3 separate regions of the Homo sapiens genome follow, and all the other regions are linked to region 3. Evidence: fine-mapped QTL for protein levels in blood plasma. Region 3 holds a variant in brackets. A gene starts in each other region. All regions are shown on their forward strands.

Region 1 (8,000 bases), not on the chromosome of region 3:
TCGTGCCATTGCACTCCAGCCTGGGGAACAAGAGCAAAACTTCGTCTCAATAAAAAAAAAAAAAAAAAAGGCTGGGTGCGGTGGCTCACGCCTGTAATCCCAGCACTCTGGGAGGCCAAGGTGGGTGGATCACAAAGTCAGGAGATTGAGACCATCCTGGCTAACATGGTGAAACCCCGTCTCTACTAAAAATACAAAAAAATTAGCCAGGCGTGGTGGCAGGCGCCTGTAGTCCCAGCTACTTGGGAGGCTGAGGCAGGAGAATGGCGTGAACCCAGGAGGCGCTGCTTGCAGTAATCGGAGATCGCGCCACTGCACTCCAGCCTAGGTGACAAAGGGAGACTCCATCTCAAAAAAAAAAAAAAAAAAAGGGATCGGGGTCCCCTCATCTGAAAAGACTGAGTCACACAATTCCCTCCTTTATTCCTCCTGCCCTGGCCCTTCCTGATTCAATTCCTTGGTTCACATTCCATAACAATAGTCAACTCATACGAAAGCTCTGAGAAGCACTGTGTAAGCCCTTGAATCCATAAAATAATTTCATCCTCACAACATCCTATGAGGTAGGTTCTATTTATATCCCCATTTTGTGAATGGAGAAACCAAGGTGCAGAGATTACCTTATTATTGTCTTATTATCTGCCACTCCGTATAGGTAACAGATCCAGGATTTACCCCAGGCCATCTGGGCTCAGATCTATGTTCTTAACATCTACATGATACAGGCCAGGCGCAGTGGCTCACGCCTGTAATCCTAGCACTTTGGGAGGTCCAAGCAGGTGGATCACGAGGTCAGGAGTTCAAGACCAGCATGGCCAAGATGGTGAAACCCCATCTCTACTAAAAATACAAAAGTTAGCCGGGCGTGGTGGCAGGTGCCTGTAATCCCAGCTGCTTGGGAGGCTAAAGCAGAGAATTGCTTGAACCCGGGAGGCGGAGGTTGCAGTGAGCCAAGATCGCGCCAGTGCACTCCAGCCTGGGTGAGAAAGTGAGACTCCAATTAAAAAAAAAAAAAAAAGGGCCAGGCACAGGGATTACATGCCTTCAATCCCAGCGCTTTGGGAGGCCAAGGTGGATGGATCATCTAAGGTCAGGAGTTCGAGACCAGCCTGACCAACATAGTGAAACCCCATCTCTACTAAAAGTACAAAAATTAGCCGGGTGTGGTGGTGGGCACCTGTAATCCCAGCTACTCGGTAAGCTGAGGCAGGGAAAATTGCTTGAACCCAGGAGGCAGAGGTTGTAGTGAGCCGAGATTGTGCCACCACACTCCAGCCTAGGTGACAGAGCGAGACTCCATCCCCCCCCAAAAAAAAAGAAAAAGAAAAGAATAGAAAAAAAAAAGAATGCATTCATAAGCCTGGGTAACATGGCGAAACCTCATCTCTACAAAAAATTCAAAAACTAGCCGAGCGTGGTGGTACATGCCTGTGGTCCTAGCTGCTCGGGAGGCTGAGATGGGAAGATGCTTGAGCCTGGCAGGCAGAGGCTGCAGTGAGCTGCGATCACGCCACTGCACTCCAGCCTGGGCGACAGGGCAAGATCCTGTCTCAAAAAAAGAAAAAAGAAAAAAAGAAAAGAAAGAAGCAAACATGCATAAATGAATAAAACATTTATTGGGAAGGGAGATTCTGTCATCTTCGGACAATTAACCACCAGGAAGTCCCGCCAGAGATCTAACCATAGTCTCTCCCACTGTAACAGCAGCACACAATAAATCCTCTCTGGCTCAGTGCTCACTTTGCACTCACGCTGCCGGCAGGTATTTCCCTGGAGCTTCCTACCTCTTAGCCTGGATTCCTTCCCTTTCTCATCTCCCCCTAGAAACAAATCCAGAACCTGTCATCCCCTAACCCCTCCTCTGCCCCATCCCTTTCCTCTCACCACTCCTACCTGAAGTGACCCTCTTTCTTCTCTCCTAGTCCCACTGCCAGGAACAGGGACAGCAGCAGCAGAGCAAAGGTCTTCGTGGCCACCATCTTCCAAGGTTATTTCCTGAGCTAAGACAGAAAAAAGCCAGGACATGTTGAGAGAGCAACCAGTAGGGGTTCTGAAAGCTGGAGAGGGGCAAAGCCCTGAGGTTTGGACCCTTTCTTTTCCTTTTTCTTTTTTTTTTTTTTTTTTGAGATGGAGTCTCGCTCTGTCGTCCAGGTGGGAGTGCAGTGGCACAATCTTGGCTCACTGCAACCTCCACCTCCTGGGTTCAAGCCATTCTTCTGCCTCAGCCTCTCGAGTAGCCTGGACTACAGGCATGTGCCACCACTCCCGGCTAATTTTTGTATTTTTAGTAGAGACAGGGTTTCACCATATTGGCCAGGCTGGTCTCGAACTCCTGACCTTGTGATCTGCCCACCTGGGCCTCCCAAAGTGCTGGGATAACAGGCGTGAGCCATCGCGCCTTGCCAGTTTGGACCTTTTCTAAGAGCCTGGGGCAACACCATGGGGGAAGATGAGGGGTGCTGTGCACTGGAGTTAGTGACTAGAAGGGACATGGAATCTTACCAAAAGATGGACCAGGCTGGGTGCAGTGGCTCATGCCTGCAATCCCAGCACTTTGGGAGGCCCAGGTGGGCGGATCACTTGAGGTCAGGAGTTTGAGACCAGCCTGGCCAATATGGTGAAATCCTGTCTCTACATAAAAGACAAAGATTAGCCAGGTGTGGTGGTGCGCGCCTGTGATCCCAGCTATTCAGGAGGCTGAGGCATGAGAATCGCTTGAACCTGGGAGGAAGAGGTTGCAGTGAGCCGAGATTGCGCCAGTGCACTCCAGCCTGGGTGACAGAGCGAGACTCCATCTCTAAATAAATAAATAAAGGAAACATCAGCGCTACCTTCTCATTTCTCTTTCTCTTTTTTTGAGACAGGGTTTCGCTCTGTCACCCGGGTTGGAGTGCAGTGACACAATCGTGGCTCACTGCAGCCTCGACCTCCTGGGCTCAGGCAAACCTTTCACTTCACCCTCCCGAGTACCTAGAACCGCAGGCATGTACCACCATGCCCAGCTAATTTTTTAAATTATGTGTAGAGATCGAGTTTCCCTCCATTGCCCAGGCTGGTCTTGAACTCCTGTGCTCAAATGATCCTCCTACCTCGGCTCCCAAAGTATTGGGATTACAGGCATGAGGCACCGCACCTGACTATCTTCTCACATCTCATATAGAGGAAGAGAAAACTAAGATGCCAGGGCTGCTGAGCATCTCAGGGTTGCCAAGATCCATCTGCTCTCGGGTCATCTCATCCATCCCTGTCTCCACTTCTCTTACCAGACTTCCTTTCCAGCTCTTCCAGAAGAAGGACAGATAGGGGTCTCCTTCCCCTGATTTCTGGACCTTCTGAGCCTGCTGAAGAAATCATGCCCCAGCTCCTTTATATTAGGCATAGACCTGCTGATTAGCCTAAAAGCATCTTATCTCAAGAAATTAAGCCCACAGCTCCTGCCACATTAAGTCCATTTTACACATAATAGAGTTGCCCTTTCCACCTGAACTGTGCTAATTGGTGATTAACATTTGGCTATCTCCAGCTGCTGTCTGGGGCCTGCCTGTGGGTAGGGTACCCTAAGTACCCCCTTTTTTCTTCCTCCTCCTCCCTTCTGGGCACAGGGCCCACTACTATTCTTCTATGCCCTACTTCCTTTACAGTTGCCCTCAGTTAGAAGGGATACTTGTAGGCCAGGCGCGATGAATCACGTCTGTAATCCCAGCGCTTGGGAGGACGACACGGGCGGATCACCTGAGGTCAGGGGTTCGAGACCAGCCTGGCCAACATGGTGAAACCCAGTCTCTACTAAAAATACAAAAATTAGCTGGGCATGGTCGTGCACGGCTGTAATCCCAGCTACTTGGGAGGTTGAGGCAAGAGAATCACTTGAACCTGGGAGGCAGAAGTTACAGTGAGCCAAGATCGAGTTCACTGCACTCCAGCATGGGCAACAAAGAGAGACTCTCTCAAAAAAGAAAAAAAGAAAAGAAAAAAGAAAGGGGGCCGGGCGCAGTGACTCACGCCTGTAATCCCAGCACTTTGGGAGGCCGAGGCGGGTGGATCACGAGGTCACGAGATCGAGACCATCCTGGCTAACACAGTGAAACCCCGTCTGTACTAAAAACACAAAAAATTAGCCGGGCATGTTGGCAGGTGCCTGTAGTCCCAGCTACTCGGGAGGCTGAGGCAGGAGAATGGCGTGAACCCGGCAGGCGGAGGTTGCAGTGAGCCGAGATGGCGCCACTGCCTGCCAGCCTGGGCGACGGAGCGAGACTCCATCTCAAAACAAACAAACAAACAAAAAAAAAAAAAACAAACAAAAATTAGCCAGGCATGGTGGCACGTGCCTGTAGTCCCAGCTACTTGGGAGGCTGAGGCAGGAGAATCGCTTGAACCCAGACCTGGAGGCAGAGGTTGTAGTGAGCCAAGATCGTGCCACTGCACTCCAGCCTGGGTGACAAAACAAGACTCTGTCTCAAAAAATAAAAATAAAAATAAAAAAGGGTACTTGTAGTGAAGACAGACTTGGGGTAGGGTGGCACTAACTGGCAGGGGGACACTCCCACAAGGCAACAGGCTACTTCTGGGTGGGAGAGAGTAGGTCCACAGTCATCTGAATCCCAGCTCTGGACAGTGGCCTATGGCTTTGGTGATGTGGCAATGCCCCCATCACATTATCTAGAGAGGTGTCCCAAGGGCTCAATGTTGAGGGAATATGAAGGATCGGGGTTTCCTAGGGACAGCTGGATAAACTGAGAACATACATTCAAGCTGTCTTCCTGCTCAGGGGCAGGATAAAGCAGGAGAAAGAGACATGTTTGTACCTCAGGGGCTCACAGGAGGGTGGGGTAGTTACAACTTTATCTATAGAGATTTAGGAGCCCCTCTCCTCATATGTCCTACTGTCCTGTACAAGAGAAGTATGTCATCCTGTCTCTTCTATCAGAGTGAAGACCCTGGAGTTATGCTGTGCCTCTCTATTATACAGGAGCCACTCCAAGGCAGGGGCTTTCTGTCCCTGATCTGCCTGGGAGCTCTCTGAGAGGAGGAGGAGAGCTGGAGGCGATGTTCCCCCAGCACACTGAGGCTTTCTGAGGCTAAGGGCTGTGTCTCCCCCTCAGACTGGAGACTCCTTGGGATACTCCCTTTGCCTTTCTCCAAGTACTTAGCACATGGCTCTGTCCACAGGGGCTCTCAGTCTAGAAGGGGCAGGGCACAGATTGCATTTTTGGCAGACCTCCAAGGCGTTCTTTCCAGGCTCCTCCTCTGCCGCCGCCATGGGTACTTGGGACCATAAACAGCCAAGCTCATGCTCTGCCTATCAGCTCCAGGTCCTAATAAAGGCCACCTTCCTTTCCAGGTGAACACCCTAGCCTAGGAGCAGATCCAGCATGAAATTAAGTGTGCGTGTGGGATGAGAGGTACCTGGACTAGCAGGGTCACTTACCTCTGCCTCCTGGAAACCTCCTCTGCATACCCACCCATTCTCCACCATCTAGAAAAACTCCTCCCTTAGCAAGCTCTCCAAATTCCATCTCCCAGCTACCAATGGGCAGAGATTAGACGTCGATTCAGATTTGACCTCCAAGGGAGATGTGAGGGCTGCTTGTGATCTTGTTTTCTGCTGAGCAACACAGTTAATGAGCTCAGAAGGGCTTGTGTTCAAATCTGCCTCCTGCCTGGAGGCAACAGTATCCAAGAAAAGTGGACAACATTCCCTGGGAACCCTGAGTCTGGGGCCAAATTGGAGTCAAGGAAGGCTCTGTGATGGGCTCTAGCAGCCATGAGCCCCTGCCTTGTACTCTGTGGATTTGTTTTGGGGGTGGGCTGCTCTGAAGGCCAATGTACTTCATTTTGTTTATTAATTTAGAGACGGAGTCTCACTCTGTCTCCTAAGCTGGAGTGCAGTGACACGATCTCAGCTCACTGCAACCTCCACCTCCGGTTCAAACAATTCTCCCGCCTCAGCCTCCCGAGTAGCTGGGATTACAGGCAAGAACCACCATGCCCGACTAATTTTTGTACTTTTAGTAGAGATGGGGTTTCACCATGTTGGCCAGGCTGGTCTTGAGCTCCTGACTTCAAGTGATCCGCCCGCTTCGGCCTCACAAAGTGCTGGGATTACAGGCGTGAGCCACCGTGACTGGCCAAGCAAGTGTACTTTAAGTCCCCACCCCACCCCCTTCTCTGCAGCCTCATCCCCATTTCTCTTTGATCTTTGGCCCTCATGCCCTGCAGTGCACAGACAAGAGAGAATATGTCCTGGACCCTGTAGGCAGGGAAGAGCAGGGCAGGCAGGAACAGGGAATGTGGGGAGGGCCCCCAAGCCTAGAGCTCCTGCTCAAGTCTGCAAGTTCCACACTCCCCAGAAGCAGCAGAATATGCGAGGAGGGCCAGGGGAGATCAGAGATGAAGCCAAACTCCTAGGGGGTTCCACAGCTCCCCCAAAAGGCATATTGGGAGGCAGGAAATTGAAAAGATGACCCTGGGAAGTTTCTGAGGATTGGAAGAGCCTGCTGGACTTGATCAAAATCATTTAATAAATCCAACTGGCAGTTAAGCCAGCCTGTCCACACCATAAGGAGAAGCGCCCTGGTGTGCAGAGTTCTGTGCAGGTTTGGGGTTGGGGGTGGGGAGGAGGAGGCTCTGGAATTAGCAGAGCCTCCCTCTTCCCATTTCACTATGGAGAATTGCTAGCATGTGAGGGGTCAGAGAGGACACAGGGGATGGGGGTCAGGAGGACACCCCAACTAGCCCAACACCCACACAAGTTGAAAGAGTGTGTGGGGGCCCGGCACAGTGGCTCACGCCTGTAATCCCAGCACTTTGGGAGGCCGAGGAGGGCAGATCACAAGGTCAGGAGTTTGAGACCAGCCTGGCCAATAAGTGCCGATAGTCCCCACTACTTGGGAGGCTGAGGCAGAAGAATCACTTGAACCCAGGAGGCAGAAGTCGCAGTGAGCTGAGATCACTCCACTGCACTCCAGCCTGGGAGACAGAGCGAGACTCCATCCCCCGCCAAAAAAAAGAAAGAGTGTGTTGGGTTGGGTTGGGGGGTTTCTGAGGTGTTACAGGAGTTAGGTAATCAGGGGAGTGAGATTCAGAGAAGGGGTGATGGGCAGTGCCATCGCAAGAGAACCCTGGGTCCCATTTCCCAGCCCTTCCTGGGTTCTGACTGGGCCCTCAGGAATGAGAACTGTAACAGCAGAAGAGCATCTGGGGTTTGCTTGCTCTTCCAGTCCCCACTGGTGACTCACCGCCACCCCCACCACCATCCCCATCCCCCTCGCTGGCGCAGACATTCTGGCCCAGCTCTGCAGCCAGGTCAGGGTGACTCAGAGGGCTGGCTGCTGCCTCCCCGCCGTGGACCCTGCTTTTGAAGTTCACTTAGTCTTCAAACTCACAGCTGACTGAGAAAGCCGACTTCCCTCTCTGGCTTCTCTCACACCAGTCAACAGATTTCTTCTTAGGCAGAGGAGGAAACAAGAGGTGACTTGATGCCCAACAACTTTGCCAAGTCCTCCGGTCTATCCTGATGCTTAGAGGGACTATCTCCAGCTTTTCCCCACAGTCACATCACACACACAGTCATGCTCCCAAACATTTTTGCCGACAGCATTTCCCTTAGGTCCTGATAGATACTTTCCAGAGGGGTCTTCAAGAAGAATATATGGCCGGGCACAGTGGTTCCCGCCTGTAATCCCAGCACTTTGGGAGGCCTGGGCGAACGGATCACTTGAGGTCATGAATTTGAGACCAGCCCAGCCAACATGGTGAAATACCATCTCCACTAAAAATACAAAAATTAGCTAGGTATGGTGGCAGGCGCCTGTAATCCCAGCTGCTTGGGAGGCTGAGACAGGAGAATCACTTGAACCCAGTGGGCAGAGGAGGTTGCAGTGAGCCGAGATCGTGCCACTGCCCTCCAGCCTGGATGACAGAGTGAAAGTACGTCTCAAAAAAAAAAAAAAAAAAAAAAAAAAAAAAAGAATATGCTATCTATAGCCTTTATGGCCATC
Region 2 (8,268 bases), not on the chromosome of region 3:
TATTTTTCAAAGATGACAAAAAAAATCTCCTATCTCATGTGTAATTCTACAGTGGGGTCTGTGTCCCCTCTTCTTGAATGTGAATGCACTTGTGACTGCTTTGACCAACAGAATATGGGATATGATGCCTTATCTCCTGAGGCTGGGTCACAAAAATGATTGTCATGAGTTAAATTGTGCCCCCCCTGAAATTCATATGTTCTAATTCATAAGTCCTAACTCCCAGTACTTCAGAGTGTGACCTTATTTAGAAATGGGGTCTTTGCAGATGTAATTAGTTAAAATGAGGTTGCCAGGCGCGGTGGCTCACGCCTGAAATCCCAGCACTTTGGGAGGCCAAGGCGGGTGGATCACAAGGTCAGGAGTTTGAGATCACCCTGGCCAACATAGTGAAACCCCATCTGTACTAAAAATACAAAAATTAGCCGGGTGTGGTGGCGCGTGCCTGTAGTCTCAGCTACTCCAGAGCCTGAGGCAGGAGAATCGCTTGAACCCGCGAGGCGGAGGTTGTCGTGAGCCTAGATCATGCCACTGCACTCCAGCCTGGGCGACAGAGCGAGACTCCATCTCAAAAAAAAAAAAAAAATGATGAGGTCATACTACAGTGTGTGAACCCCTAATCCTATAGGACTGTTCGCCTTTGAAAAGGGGAAATTTAGACACAGAAACAGCCATGCAAAGAGGGAAGATGATGTGAAGAGGCACAGCTCAGACACCCATCTTCAAGGCAAGGAGAGAGGCCTGGAACAGATCAGAAGGAATCAACCTGCCAACTCCTTCATTTCAGACTGCTAGCCACAGGAACTGTTGTTTAAACCACCCAGTCTGTGATTCTTTGTTATGGCAGCCCTAGCAAACTAACCAGCAATGCCATCTTCATCTGATTCTCTTTAAATACTCCAAGCAGGAGACCAGTTACCATTTAAGTCCAACTACCCCAAGAATATCAGACTGGGGAGGCCACATGTAGGTACAATGGTCAACAGCCCCGGCTGAACTCAACAGCCAGCACTAGCATGCGAATGAGCCTTCTCAGGCATCAGCCCAGTGGATCCTTAACCACAACCCTGCCAACCTCTGATAGTATCCGCATGTGAGACTCAAAGCAAGAACTGCCAGGGGGAGCACTTCCTGATCCTGACCCACAAAATCCTGAGTGATGTACAATGGTTGCTTGAAGCTGCCAAGTTTTAGGGTAACTTATTATACAACATAGTAACCAGAGTGCTTACCTTCCCCTTCCCTCCCTTGCCACTGGCCGGAACACAGATGAGGCCATGGTGGGCTGTCTTCAGTCCTGTAAATGACATAGATGAGGGCATGGGGAAGCCACAAACGAGGAGCCTGGGCTCTTGGATGCCCTCATGGAGCACAACTGCCAACTCCCCACGTGCCACTCACATTTCATGCAAGAGAAATAAATTTCCATCTTGTTTAAGCCACTGTTAATTCCACCTGTTTTTTTTTTAAGCCAAATCAATATCCTAGTAATATGATATATGTAAAACAAACAGCTCAGTGTCTCGCACATAAATAAGTGCTTTTTGGAAAAAATAATTATTGCTATTGTCATTATTATTATACTAATAATAATTATTAATAATGTTATTACCCTAAACTGCTCAACACTCCTCAAAATGAACATGAGGTGGACCCATGTCACTGATGGTCAATGAGACATGTCAAGCTGGGCAGAAATTGTCTGTGGTCATGCCTAACTCATACCAGGTCTCTCTTCCATCCGCCTTAAACTGACTATAGCTCTCCCAGGCAGACCAATAGACAGGGGATCATGGACACCAACACACAGACACATCCTCCCACTCCCCACCCACACAATGAACCAAAGCTCAGGGCAGCCACTGTGTGCTCTCGTCCCACCTGTCCTGTTGCAGGAGAGAAGACAGGAGGCAAAATAGGATGGAAAGTGGGTCTAAGATAATGAGTGGGGAGAGGGAGTCAAAGAAACTAACTCCATCCCCAAGAAATCAGGCAAGGCTTCCAGGAGGAGGTGACCACTATCCTGAGAGTATCTTCCAGGCTTAAGAGAGGGAAAGGGCTCTGCAAGGAGGTAAAGTGGCCTGGGCAAAGGCGCAGAGCATCAGAATCCACATAGCCAGTGACCTCCACCTGCCTCCTCTGCCTCATCCTTTCAGCTCTACCTCCAGGGAGGCTGGAGGGCAGCACAGGGGAGGGTGGGTGTCAGAGCCCTGTGGCCCCCAAGGGACCTGTGTCCAAGCAGGGAACTTCTCTGCAGCTATGGCAGAGTCAGCTTTAGAGTCTTCTCTCCTTCCAGAACCATTGAACTGCAAATACTCCTTAAAAACCCTGATCCAGCCCAGGCGCGGTGGCTCACGCCTGTAATCCCAGCACTTTGGGAGGCCGAAGCAGGCAGATCACGAGGTCAGGAGATTGAGACCATCCTGGCCAACACGGTGAAACCCCGTCTCTACCAAAAATACAACAATTAGCTAGGTGTGGTGGTGAGAACCTGTAGTCCCAGCTACTCGGGAGGCTGAGGCAGGAGAATCACTTGGACCCAGGAGGTGGAGGTTGGAGTGAGTCAAGATCGCACCACTGCACTCCAGCCTGGGCGACAAAAGCAAAAACTCCATCTCTAAAACAAAAAACAAAACAAAAAAACCCCTGATCCGCTGCAAGGATGCCCCCAGCCTTCCTGTCGTTTTTCCCCTCTCTGGGTCACAGGTTTTGAAGTCAACCTGATTTCCCCCCTCATCTCCTAGTGCCCTGCTTCAGATTTGGGCAGGTCTTGCTGAACTGGAGTCCCAGAAGAGAGCCCACAGATACAGGAGGCTGTGTCCCAGGAAGGAGACATAGGCCCTTCCTTCTTGAGGCCCCAGGAGGGAGACAGGACACAGAGACATAGAACTCTCAGTGAACAGAGCAGAGGCCCTGAGAGCTGGGCAGTTAGAGAGGGCAGGAAGAGTGCAATTGGGCAATCAAGGCAAGCTTCTTGGAGGAAAGGGGCAGGGAAGGGTGGATGTCAGGGGAGATCAGTCTGCAGGCAGGCTCTGGAATAGGTACAGAGTGGTGAGGGATTCGAGTTGGATTCCAGTTTAAACATCCACAGAGCCTTTAGGCTTCAGTAGCTAGTCCAGGGGAGGGGGGTACATGGAGGGTGTCCCTATGGCCTTGTCACTAAGAAAGAACAGTTCGTGACTTATCCACTGCGTGTGAATTCAGCGAGATTGGGGAGGGAGGTTTCTTAGGGATAGGGCAGCCTCCACACTCCCATTGCTCCTCTACTCAGGGAAAGGGGGACGGTAGAAATGGCCTGCCTCTCCGGCCAGCACACGTACAGCCATCTCACCCCCACACGGCTCTTCCTCCACAGCCCCATTTTGGATTACACTTCACCTCCAGCCACTCCAGCCCTGGGCGCTAGTACTACAGCTCCTGGGGAAACGCCCCGGGGTGTTGGTGCCCGACTCGTCCCCCAGCCGTCTTCGGCTTCACGGGGTGGGGGAGGGACAGCCCTGACCCCATCTGCTCTCCTAGGCTGCCTAGCAGGCTCCTGTCGCCGCTCCCCGCCCCTTCTTCCAGAGTTCCATCCACTCCTGCCCCCACTCGACCAGAGTTCCTTCCACAGCAGTTCCTGGCCTGGGCGCTGTCCAGCTCCAGGCTGGGTGGTCGAGTCTTCCCTGGGCTCCGAGCAGAGGGAACTCCGCAGCCCGCCCCAGCCTTGTCCTGGGGCGCCTCTGTCCAAGTCGGTTTTCTCTTCCCTGGCCCCCACGCCTCCACCCTCCACTTCTACGGGATGCCACCTCCACGAAGGAGAAAGGAAAGGAAATACAAAGGCATACATTCCGTTTCTGTGGAATTTGCTCTTTATTTTGGGACCAGGGAAGGACCACACACAGCCCTCCAGCCCAGGGGGCGGGGGCACCGAGACGCGGGCGGAGGGCCGCACCCGAACCCTGCCCAGACGCCGCCGTCGGGAGGCAGAATCCGGGTTTCTGGGGTCGGGAGTGCGTATGCAAATGACGTGGGCGTGGTTGGCAGATCTCCCAGGAGGCCTCAGGGGTCCTCACCACAGGTCTGGGCCCTCCGACCTGCGGAAGCGAAGGGGAAGGAATTGGATCTGGGGAGGCGAGCCTGGGAGACGTCGTTAAGTGATGTTGCCAGGGTAGGGCCAGGCCGCGCTCTCGGATGCAGGATGTGTGGTAACGGGCGCTTTTACCGCGACCTGACGGGGCGGTCCTCGCCGTCGGGGAAGAACGTTTTGGAAAGAAGCGTGTCCGGGCCGTCTCTTTTCCCATACCTGGGGGCGGGGAAGGGAAGAGCGTGGTCAGATCTGGCCACGCCCCCAGGTGGAGCGGGGCCGCAGGGTGAGAGCCCCAGGGGTCCCGCTCCGCGCCTGCGCTCACCGCTGCCGGGTGACCAGGTTGAGGTAGTGGCGCAGGGAGGCGTAGTAGCGGTTCAGCTCCTCCGGCGAGGCGTCTTCGCGGGGAGCCTCGGGTTTGATGGGGTAGGCGTCGACCAGCGCCCCTAGGCAGACGAGCAGGGCCAGAAGCACTGTGGTCAAGGCGGGCCACGGCCTGCGCACGAACACCATCTGGGAAGGCGACATTGGGACGTGGGTCATTCCAAGCCTCGACCCTACACGGCGGGAGGCTGCGGCTGCCGTCGGGGCCGCGCTCCGACGCTCTCCCTGGGGCTGGTACCGGACCAAGGCTCAGCCACCGGGCTTGCTGTGTGTTCTTGGGCACTGCACCGTCTCCTGACTCAGTTTCCTCATGTCAGAGGAGCATAAGCCCTGCCTGCCTCCCCACCCCCACCCCCGCTGCTGGCCTCCTTCCCACCTCCGATGGCCCCCTCCAATCCAGTTTCCTACCACTCACCCCCAGCTTCCACCATCCCAGCCTCAGTTTCCCCACAAAACAGCCTGGGTTTCCCCAGGCTTGAGCCCCCAGCCACTCACAGCGATAGCTTGTGAAGCAGACGAGCAGGAGGTGGAAGGCGAGGGAAGTCCCAAGGGCTGCACTGCCGCAGGTCAAGCTGAGGCCTCCTCTGCTCAGCGCTTTCCTTGTGGGGCTTATATCCCCGCCTGGAAAGGGAGGGGGAGTCCCAGGGGGAGGGGGAGCCAGCAGGGGGTGGGCCCTTCTTCCTCCCTCCTTCCACCCTCGCCAGATCGCTGAGCTTATACCCAGCCAGTGCGTGATGTCTCCACCTCGCAGGAGCTGAGGGGGCAGTTGCCATGCTCAGATTCGTGGTCTCACTGGATGGGGTACCCAGCCTGAACCCCATGTTCACCCCACAGCCCCCCAGTGGCAGGTCTAGCCTCCTGAGGAAGTGAAGCGGTTGGATCTAGACTCCTGGGGCAGCCCCTAGGACCAGGGTTGAGATTCTGTCTTCCCTAGCCTGTCCGTGGATGGGAGTTGGGGGTGGGAGGGTGGACACATTCCCTCCAGTCCGTGGGATGTGTGACCACTCTTTCCAAAAGACAACCCTTTTCAGCCTCTGTTCAGTAATACCTTGGAGAAGGGCTGAGGAATGACAGGACCTTTTGGGGAAAGTCTTTCTCCTGGAGGCAGGGTGGGAGCACCTGACCTTGGCTCCTGACCTGCAGTTTATGGTGTCTTGGGGAGAGGCCTCTCTGAACACTCCATTATGTCCTCTCTCTATTAAAGAGTTGGAAAAGAGGCAGGAGGAGGCAGAAACCAATCTCCCCGCCAGAAGCAGCTGAGTCGGCCACCTGTGTATCCAGACTGGCACACACAGACCCCAGTCCAGCCATGTGTGGTATAGAGCCCCCTCCCAAGGCAGAGTGTCTCCACCCCTATGCAGGTGTCATTCAGAGCACTGGTGTCTTCTGGGCCTGAGTGATGCCAAGGCTTCCCAGGCACATGCCACTGTCCCCAGCCCATGGCAGTCTCCACTGGGCTCTAAGCCCAGATCCTTTGAAGGAAAGGACTCGTGTTTATTAAGCACCTACTATGCACTAGGTAGTGCATAATTTCGGGCATCACAAGACGATGAGCTGAGTTTATCTCCATTTTCCAGATGAGGAAACTGAAGCCCTGGGAGGTGATGGAGCAGCCAAGCTCACCCACAATTCAAACAGGAAAAGCAGGGTGAGGCAGAACCCAGGAAGAGGACCTCTCAATTGTGAGGGGCAGAAAGGCTCAGCACCTGGAGTAGCCATTGGGGCGCCAGAGGCAGGCCTGGGAGCAGGGACCCGAAGACTAAGTCTAGGGCCCACACCCACTCTGAGAGGCGGAGTAGGGGAAGGACCTTCAGACTGCCAACCCCCTCAAACCCACCTGCCCAGGAGGAGAAAGGGCTGTGGGAAGGTCTCCCCATAAAGCCCTTCCAGCTTCCTCTCCCTGGCCTCGCCAGACCTCCAGTACTTCCAGATGTCCCATCGGCCCATAGGGACTGATGGGGCCAACTTGTCCAGGCCCTTGGTTCTGAGCCAGCCCCTCCAGCCCCAGGACAGATGGCTGTGGGCGCTATTTTTAGAGCTCTCCTGAGATGGGGAGTTCAGGGCTCTCTGTCACCATTTTATGGGTTCAATCACCTGCATTCTCCGGAAATGGCTCCTTATCAGCCAGTCAGGCCCCATGGGACTCCACATCCCAGGAAACACCAGGGTGCCCTGCTGAGCATGGGGGTGGAAGAGGACACCAGGACAAGGGGACATAGATCCTGCCCTTGGAGGGAGGAGAAAAATCATTCTTCTTAGGGAGCCCTCATCCAGGGGGCAAGACACACCCCTGCCCTTCAAGAACCCCAGTCTCAAAGGAGAGATATGGCCATGTCATAGGGGAGCCCCAGTATGAGCGGTTCCCAGAACAGATACAGAGAGACAGAGACAGCCTTTGTCCTGTTTGGAGGGGAGACAGCAGAAATCAAATAATTCCATTCCTCCATGGAAAGACAAAAGACAGGTGCTCACCCTAGGATGGAGGGAGCAGTGGGGGCTGGTTAGGACATCTGTGATCCCAGGGATCAGGGCCTAGAGAAGGACCCTGCAGGCTAACGGGGGCAAGGATACCAGAGAGTAGGGGGCTATTTGCTCTTCTGACCCTGCGGCGGCACTAACCATGGTGCTGGTAGGGGATTTCTAGTGCACCGATTCTGGACAGAGACGAAGGAAACTGTGAGATGGCCATGGGGAATCTGACATCCCTGGAACCCTGTCATGTCTTGGGGAATGTGGAGTCCAAGGACAGATGGGAAGAGAGGAGAGACACTGTAGAAGCTAGAGGGCATGGGGTGGCCTGAATTCGGGCTACAACCTCTGAAGAAGTCACTTCCTCATTTATAGCCAAAGTAAATGGGCCCCTAGGTGGTCTCAGTGTGGACCAGGAGCCAGCCGCACATCCCCGCAAACCCTCTCTATCCCTCATACCCCCACCCTCCAATCTCACTCCCCAATTACAGGGCAAGCTGATTGGTTCATTAATCACCGCCTCCTCATCGAAGAGCTTATTAACTTGTTGATTAGCGGGGAAAATGTCTCAGCCCTCGATCAATGGGCTCAGCCACCCCCCGATCCACACACCCACACCCATCATTGCTGCATGACTCAGTGGCCATGAGACATGTCTAGGGTGTGAGGGGGGAAACTTCAGAAACAATTGTTTTTGTAGAAGTGAGACCAGGACCTGCCTCCGGTTTGTCCTTGAAGGGTGGGGGACAGAATCAAAGGGGAGGGGACAGAATCAGAATGGTCCCCATTCTGAGAGCACCTGGCAAGGCCACCCCAAGTCAGGGAGACCATGGACCTGGACCCCAGCCAACAATTCTCCTTGTCCAGTGGGCTCAAGGGCCACTCATCAAGATGGTGTGGCCTCTGCCATTCATCCCCAGAGGCTTAGAATTCTGTACCCCATCACCCACCTGCCTGTACCCACTCCCCACACACAAGGCCTCACTTTGATCACCATGCACTGTGTGGCACTGCTCCACTGCTTTCCACCCTCAGGCATTTCCTCATGCCCAGGGTCCTAGAGATAGCAGGTTGTCATACAGCAAGTGTAATTCAGGCCAGGCGTGGTGCTCACGCCTGTAATCCCAGCACTTTGGGAGGCCAAGGTGAGTGGATCACGAGGTCAGGAGTTCAAGACCAGCCTGGCCAACATGGTGAAACCCCATCTGTACTACAAATACAAAAATTAGCCAAGCGTCGTGGCGCATGCCTGTAGTCCCAGCTACTCTGGAGGCTGAAGCAGGAAAATTGCTTGAATCCAGGAGGCAGAGGTTGCAGTGAGCCAAGATCGCGCCACTGTACTCCAGCCTGAG
Region 3 (8,268 bases):
ATTTTAAAATAGAGAAGCTTAGGCCCTGCTCCAAGCCTGAATCTCAGTGAATCTTCCTATAAGCTGTGGATGGAACTGGGGAGAGAAATCAGCAGCCGCAGAAAAAGATCACCAGTGCTTAGCTCTGTTTTCTCTGCTGTCAACTGGTTTTTCTTCTTGTCACTACCTTAATCCAAGCTTTATCCTGAGGCAATAAGGTACCCAATATAGTAATGCTAAATTAGTGTAATTTTAGTAATATTAAACAAAAAGAGAAATAAGCAGAACCAGGAACGTGCTATCAGCCTTCTACAAAGAATTATTATTCTAATAAAATAATTTTGTTAAGTTTGTTTTAAAACTTTTGTTAGTAATGCCATCTTAACTAAAAATGGTTAGAGGAAAGATAGTATTGTAAATCATATATAAATATAGATGGTTTTCCCCCACTATTTGTTAATGCTTTTGTGACTATGCTATCCCTTACTCAAAGATCCTCCCAAGAATGATGATGTATTGTTTTTTACTATTAAGATTTATGTTTATTTATTTTGAAAAGCAGTTTTCACATTGAATGGTCTAGGTTTAGATGCATGCCTAGAGCTAACAGGTGGGAAAAAGAAGAGAGATTTAGTTTTTGCTGTCTTCCCCAGTCTCCTCCTACACGGTTACCAGTGCTATTTAGCCTTTCAGTAGCTGCTCAAGGAATACACAATTAAATCCCCAGTGTCCACCCCCATAGGTCATACATGATTTGTATGATGTCCACAGTACCCACCAGCACAATTTCCTCTGCTACTCATACCCTCTTTGGGTCTCAAAAATTCCTAATAATTGCGTGCAATTCCCAGACTTACTACTAAACTGTATTATGTCTCACTGTTTTCCCACAAGCTGTTTTCTATGCCTAGACTGTCTTCTCCGATCTCATTATGTGCTCCTGGCAACCTTTGACTTCTGTTCCCGGAGCAAATGTTTTCTCCTTTGGGCAGTTTTCATTCACCCCTCCCGAATTCCCTACTACTTTCATTCCTTCAACCAATGAATATTGAGACTTCAAGTACAACTTCTATGATTACACAAATTACAATCAGTTGCAATCATTTATCTCTAAGCTAGTCTCCTCTAGATTCTTGATTACTTGAGAGCGTTTCTTTCCCTCCTCTTATTCCTCAGCCCCTAACACGGAGCCTGGCACGAGGGCAAGGGCTGGCCAAAAGCAAAAGACTCATCTGCTGCTGGGACACCAGGAAGCCAATCTGCATTGATTTTCCTTTCGGGCATTTCAAAGACAATTTGGTTTATAAAGTTGAGAATGAAGCCTCTAGCAAGAGCAGGCGAATTCCCCAGAGGGTTCGGTCTACAGAATCGCCAACGCCCCCGCCGATTACTCATCCGTGACTCCAGCGGCGTCTCAACCACCACCTCCAGAAAAAACGCGCCAAAATGTTTTACAACTGCCTCCTCCCACGCTTCAATGCAGACCAACTTCCCAAGCAGGGGGCGAGGGCTTGATTCCGAGCCAAGGAAAGGAAAGCTCTAGACTAGAAGTCACACTCCCTAGGGTCCCCTCGGAATCGCTCAGCTATAAGCAGTCTCCCACTTAATGTCTTGACGCCCACCCACCTCCAACCAGCTACCTATCGACCAAGCCTTCACTTGGACAGGCAACAATAAGCTGAAATTCCCGGGAAAACGATTACGTACTTGGCTGAAGAACAAGAAAGAAATAGATCCCTTCCCCATAGTCAGTTCGGCATCTCGACCCTGCAGTGGGACTGGCCGGGCAAAGTTATGAAGCTTGGACTTTATAAGTTCCCAGTGAAAAGCCGGAGCTCCCTAGAGAGTCGCGGGGATAGATGGTCCCGTGTCTTTCACCCACCATTTCTCCCCCCAGCTTCCCAGGCTACTCCGCGGCCTCCCAACCTCCTGGTCGCGAGTCCCAGCAGCTGGCACTCTTCCAATGCCCTGGGCGTGCCCTTACAGGCTGCCAGGGCGGACAGCCCCAAGCCTGCTTAGCCCCTTGCATCAGGACTTGGATCTGATGCTGCCATATTGAAAAGAAGGCAACAGCCGGCTCCTGACGCAGACCGCCTCAGTCCCGGGGGATGGAGCGCACTGCTTCTCCCGGGGGCGCTTGGTTGGTAAGAGCTTGAGTGTATCTCAAGTTCCCTGAACAAGCGTGGAGGGATTTTTCTTCCAAACCGCGCGGGAACGGATTTCAATTCTAGAGCGGCCAACAGTAAGCATAAGCCCTACCCAGCTGCAGCGGCTTCCTTCTGCTTGGCTGCGCCCAGCCTAAACAGTAAATAATGCAAGCTTTCTCTCTCTCCAAGCGCGACAGGGGCGAGGGCTGGAGCAGCTCCTTGCTCTTTGCTACTCTGGGCTCTGGAGAGTGCAACCTGGGGCTCCCACTTGGAAGACCGCGCTCCAGTCCCGCCAGTCCCCTGGGGCCCCAGAAAGTTTCTTGAAAGTGGAAACTCTTACCTGACCCAAAAGGTCATAGCCCAGCTCCTCGGCGATGGCCGAGGCTGCTTCCGGGCCCCCGGGGATCTCCGCTGCCCATTCATTGACAAATTGCCTTTTCGCTTTTGCACTGTTCAGTGCACACCAAGCGCAAAAGAGGACGAAAGCAGTGCACTGCAGACTCCAGGCTCTTCGCTCCATAGCTCACACACTCGCTTGAACAAGAGTGGGAAGGGAAGAGGAAAAAGAAGCAAGATAGGAGAAAAGCCAGACAGACTCCCCCTTCCCACCCTCGGGCTCTAGACCACTCCTGGCTCCTGGTTGCTCTGCGAAGAGCTAGGAGGCGCGAGAGGAGAGGCTGGGCGGCGGCGAGCGCTCAGTGAAGCGCTTCGGTCTCCAGGCTGAGTGGAGCCCCAGCCCTTCCCAGCCAGAATGGAAATGAGTGTTTACACGTCAAATCGACGAAAGCCATCTCTTGACGTCAGATCTACCTGGACTAAGATCCGAATGGTATTCCCGGCGGGGCGGAGAAGCGGCTAAAATAAGCAGCCAGGGATTAGGAAAAGGAAGGAACTGTTTGCTGGGATCAGTTAAGTCTGCTCCTTGTCTGCCCATAAATTCTGTACCGTGAGAAACATTTTCACTTTTCAAAGAGAAGTGCCCCACTTGAACATAACTACCAAGAATCAAAGGCTGGGAGTGCTTTCCCTCCCTTCCATCCATTTTCTCTGTATTTACTTTATTATCTCATGTGTGTGGCGGGGAGGGGGGGAGGCTATAGGATTCTTATAATGGCCCTTTGGGCATCAGCACCTGCTATGAAGAACAAGGCTCTTAGGTCTTTCAAAGAGAGAGGCTAGGAGAGTAAGGAGAAGAAGGGAAGCTACTACTGTCCCAATTCTGTTCTAAATTGTCTGAGAAAATTAGCATGTCTATGTTAAAGCAATACTATTAAAAATGAATTTTTAACCATTCAAGCCACCTTAGTTTACAAGTTTACTTCCCTCCTCCCCTTTGTTTCTCAACCTCAGTAAAACAATATCAGTAGTTATACTCCGATATTGCAAAGCCAGCGCCACCACCACCTTTTAGGGTGTTTATCAGTAAAATGATTAATCATGTGATTTTAAAAAAACATATTTTTAAGAATTCGTCAACAAGGGGATCTAGGATCCCAAAAGCTGTTGTGTTGATTCAGGGAGGGAAAGAGCAGTTTTTATTTACCTCGACTTTCCATTGTGCCTCAGTAGAGCTCTTCACTTTGGTGCTGAGCTGGAGCTGTGCCATTACTTTCCCATAAAATGCACAATGCCTCTTTGTGGAAAAATGGTTTCCTGTGGGAGGAGAGCAAG[G/C]AAACATCTAAATGAATTCTCCACCCCTCACCCTAGGGAAGTGAGTTCAGTCTCCCATGGTGGAGCCTATTCGAACCCTGAGGGATTGAACCTGGCGGGAGATACCAGTGCCTAGTATTCAGCACCGAGGTCTGGACAGCGACACACGCAGGACTGCCGCAGGAGCTGCTCTCTCTTCTGAGCACCAAAGACCTCCACCCTTCTGCAGCTGGCCAGCACCAAGCTGTTTTCCTTTTGATATGTGCATTTCCCTCTTTTGAACAGCAAAATAGGAAATTGGCCGCAGGGGGGAGTGTGGTTAGGTTCATGATCGTGACAACTTGTGTCCAGCTCTTGGGAACGTGTTGGACTCAGGCCAAAAGTAAAATCGCCGGGAGGTGGAATTGAGAGAGTATGCTGCACCTGGGAAGTTTGTTTTTTTTTTTGTTGTTGTTGTTGTTGTTTTTTAAAGCTCAACCGCCCGAGGGCGCGATCTATGCTGTAGAAATAGAAGAAAGGGGAGAAGGTTGGAAAGAAAGCATATAAACAAGTGGAGAAAGGAAGCAAGAGATGTTCCTTACAAGAAGCAAATGAGACAAGACTTGGTGGAGGATCAGGCTCTGTAGTGCTAATTTTTCATTTGCCTCCACGTTTGCAGAAATGTGCACTACATAATTTCTTTAAACATAAAGCATCTTTACAAAATCAAATGCCAATGTTAATAAGCCATGTGACATGGTTAAGTGTTTTACAATAATGTAACTCACATGAGATGAAATGGAATGGGCTCCGATTGATAGCTTTGTTGTCTGTTCTGTAAATCCACATGTGTGAATGTTGATGGCTGGGTAAGCTGTCTTCTTTTCCCTTCACACCTCGGCCTGAGTTGTGGCCTCAAGCTCTCAAGGGTGTTTCATTCTCACAGCAGACAGACACTAACTGTGCACTAGCAAGGCAAGAGAAGCCCAGGGCAAATGTTTTATAACGGTAGATGTGTCAGAGGAGGAACATATTTGTCCCTTTCTTATTATTGTTCAAGTAAATCAGTTTGGCAGAGTGTTGGCAATAGGGTCCGTGTCTCTCTCATTAATGAGGCATTTGTCTTAAATGGAGCACCATAGAAGCCTGGAATAAACATTTGGTTTATATACCTAACAGGGCCAAGTAAACTCTCACAAAAAGAAGATAATATCCTCATCCACACAATACAGATATCAGTAAGTTAATCTGCTATTGTCTGATTTTTATCCTATGAACCTCTTTGCCAGAACTTCTGGCATGCAGAAGAAATAAATTTCTGCCAAGACTAGAGGTGCAAGTAGATTTAGAATCCATTTTAACTTTTTGTTTCAAGGGCTAGTCCTACCCTGATTTGTAGATCATGGTAGTGACCTCCAGGCCCATCAGTGTTATATTTCGTATTATAAATTGGAAGAGCCAATTATCACCCTTAAGTTGGTTTTAATAGCATTTGATTCATGTGATTAATTTATATAGAAAACCGGATACTCCAGAAATTAAGAGGACGTGTTTCCATTATAAGTTATCAAGTGATTGCCATGCCTTTCATGATGCTCACAACTGCCCAGTGATACAGCTAAGCATTCATTAAGGTTTCTTGGAGAGTAAAAGAAGCTATTAAGAGCAGGAAGTAAGAATATGCTCAAAGGAGATCTATAGATCACCATATCTCTTTAGTCTTAGGAAACAAATGTTTTAAACATTTTGTTACTACGAAATAAAACATATACCCTTGGGCATACTAAACAATGTACCCAATATTTATCACAAAGTGGACACAGTGTAACCATTTGGGCCAAGAAAAACATTTCTAGACCCACAGAATAACAGAATAATATTCCTAGATCTTCAAGAGATGTTAAAGAATGGGTAAGGAAATAATGTAGGTTTAACATTTTCCAGTTATCATGTAGACTTGCCTGTTTGCTATGGGTAACATTAACTGCACATTAACTCAAAGGTGTAACAAATTAGTCTGTAATTAAACTAGAAGATTTTTGGTAGCAGAACACATTATAGGGGCAAACCTACCTATAGCAGTGTTTTCCAACATAGAAAATAACAATATTTGTGTGGCACACTGGGGTAAACTGGAGGAAATTTGAAGACATCTGTATGGAGCTGGGTGAAGAGATTCATAACATTTTCTTTACATGATACAATTATGATAACAAAATAAAATATAACATTTTGGGCAATACATTAAATTGCATATTAATAACTTTAAATTGAGAAATCTGAATATGCTTTCACCAATATAAGTTTTTATCTGAAGTTTTATGCTTAAAAAGGCTATATATCATTTCTAATTAAAACATTTTAATGACAAATGATCTTTTTATATTCTTAATAGCTGCTGTCAATGAAACTTTTTTGCAAAATTCTATTTTAAATAATATAGCCGTCTTTATTTTCTTGACATATTTATCATTGGAGTTCTATATGAAAATGCCTATAGATTCAGAATCCATCTAAATTTTACAGGTCAAGTATGACAAAATAATATTGAAATTGTAAATTGGAAAATACACACACCTTTTAGAGAAGTTACCATCTACCAACTTTACCACAAATTGAGAAAAGTATCTAGTATACACAAAGACTGATATTGGGGTTACCACTTAAAGATACACCTGCCAGAAGTCCCTGAATTACTTTCTCATGATATCTCCTCCCGTGACCAAATTTTGGTGGGTGTGCTATGCTAATTAAGTACTTAGAGTATGAACTCCTCCAGCAGATCCACAGACACTTTTCACATGATGGAAATAGACATGCTTGCAGCAGGTTGCTGAAGTAAATACAGCATCAAGGTGGTGGACACGACTTGGTTGAGTTCCAAGAGCTCAGCAACAAGCTACTCACCTGGCCTTCCCAAGTGATTAGAAGACCAAATATCTTGAGGGACATCTTTAATTCTACTGGTTGGGATGCTCTGACCTATAGAAATGGAAGTAAAAGAGTAAAAAAGCAAAGTCTATACACTGCAAAGGCTTTGAGGTGGATGAATAATTATGAAGGATTTTTGCTGAATGAACTAGATAAACACAAAATCTTGAATTTAATGTAGAATTGAATTGAATTATTAAAATGGAAGCAGTGAGTGCCATAAATTCCACTTGCTAGAAATAATTGATCTTTTCTAATGAAAATGGATAATTAAATGTGGCCATATACAAGTATTTAGGTTCTTTCTTTAACAGGTTCTTTTAAAATATGCATTTACTGAGTGAGTTGCAGAGCATCCCTGCTTCTGCTTGCAGGCAATGCTCTTGCTTCCTCTGTGCTCTCAAACATTGCCATTTTCGTATTAAACTCTCAGTGCATAACTGCTGTCTCTGCTCCTGAAGTATGTCTTTCTATGAGAATTATAGACTTTAGTATTGAAAAGTGACCTTGAATATTATACAGCTCCTTGCTTCTCAAAGTCTTGTCCACATACCAGCATTATAGGCATCACTTGGAAGCTTGTTAGAAATGCAGACCCTCAGCCCCCACCCCAGAACTACTGAATCAGAATCTGCATTGTTAATGAGTCCGTAGTGATTCATACGCAATTAAAGTTTGAGACGCACTGATCTACTTAACATGCCTGGTATACATGACACTCCTCTGTGATATTTTTTAACAAGTTGTTAGGCAATTCCTGGTCTCCCAAAGCAACCCATTCTTTGGTTTGGATTGGCTGAAATGGTTACAAAGTCCTTCCTTATAATGATATTATAAAACCTTTCCTCATTACTACCTCCAGTCAAGCATGCTAATTTTGCCCTCTAGTACCACACTGACAAGTCTCAATCTCTTTTATACATGATAGCAATTCATACTTCGAAGGCAGATTGTTATATCTTGCCTAACTTTTTTCTGCTCTAGGTTAAACATCCCCAACCTTTTTAACACTTTGGCATTCTGCTTGCTCTTGTCCGGATAGGGTCTTTCAATAGAATTTTTTAAATGTGGCACCCAGAATAGAATATAGTATAGTTGGCCAACTAAAAAAAGATAATTTATTTTTCCAACTTTTTATTTTGAAATAACTTTATAGTTACAGAAAATTAAGAAAAAACAGTACACAAAACTTGTGTATACCGTTCATGCAGCTTTCCCTGGGGTTTACATCTGGTGTAACCATATTACTATTAGCTAAACCAAAACATTAACATTGATACAATATTCTTAACTCATTTATAGACCTTTATATTTTTCCAACTGTTCTATTAGTATATCTTCTTTTATGGTCCAGTATTCAATTAAGACTCCCTATTGCATTTGGTTATTATGTCTCCTCCAAACTGGGATATTTTATCTTTGTCTCTCACAACCTTAAAACTTTTGAGGAGTACTATTCAGTTATTTTATATTATGGTCCTTAATTTTGGTTTGTCTGGTGTTTTCTAATGATTAGGCTGGGATTAAACATTTGTAGGAATAAGTGATGTTATGTCATTTTCATTGACTTGTATCAGGAGGT

Alleles and levels. Positions count from the first base shown, and alleles are read on the strand shown. Strength reflects both the effect of a copy and how common the allele is.
As copies of G replace C in region 3, the plasma level of the protein whose gene starts at base 3,343 in region 1 goes up (moderate association).
As copies of G replace C in region 3, the plasma level of the protein whose gene starts at base 5,033 in region 2 goes up (moderate association).

The links. PIP is the posterior inclusion probability: the model's chance that the variant is causal. The UK Biobank Pharma Proteomics Project read protein levels with antibody pairs (Olink). The fine-mapping took linkage between variants from a reference panel, not from the people measured, so its PIPs are less certain.
Region 1: it holds the start of GIP, and the variant in region 3 is fine-mapped to the plasma level of the GIP protein (UK Biobank, PIP above 0.99).
Region 2: PYY starts here. The variant in region 3 is fine-mapped to the plasma level of the PYY protein (UK Biobank, PIP 0.99).

Annotation. Positions count from the first base shown.
Region 1 is chr17:48,965,254-48,973,253 of GRCh38, forward strand. It overlaps GIP (gastric inhibitory polypeptide), which reads right to left and starts at 3,343. Exons shown (of 6, transcript NM_004123.3): 1 at 3,264-3,343; 2 at 1,894-2,000. The coding sequence starts at 1,979. RefSeq lists enhancers at 929-1,429, 1,430-1,930.
Region 2 is chr17:43,948,908-43,957,175 of GRCh38, forward strand. PYY (peptide YY) reads right to left here and starts at 5,033. Exons shown (of 4, transcript NM_001394028.1): 1 at 4,943-5,033; 2 at 4,389-4,576; 3 at 4,202-4,282; 4 at 3,826-4,073. The coding sequence starts at 4,576. The coding sequence ends at 4,049. RefSeq lists an enhancer at 4,068-4,571.
Region 3 is chr5:96,430,397-96,438,664 of GRCh38, forward strand. PCSK1 (proprotein convertase subtilisin/kexin type 1) reads right to left here and starts at 2,852. Exons shown (of 14, transcript NM_000439.5): 1 at 2,467-2,852. The coding sequence starts at 2,646. The region is part of intron 4 of LOC101929710 (a long non-coding RNA gene); the gene reads left to right. It also overlaps a transcript of CAST not described here and the pseudogene LOC102724070. RefSeq lists silencers at 3,729-4,023, 3,885-4,004. The variant G/C (reference allele first, on the strand shown) is at 3,798.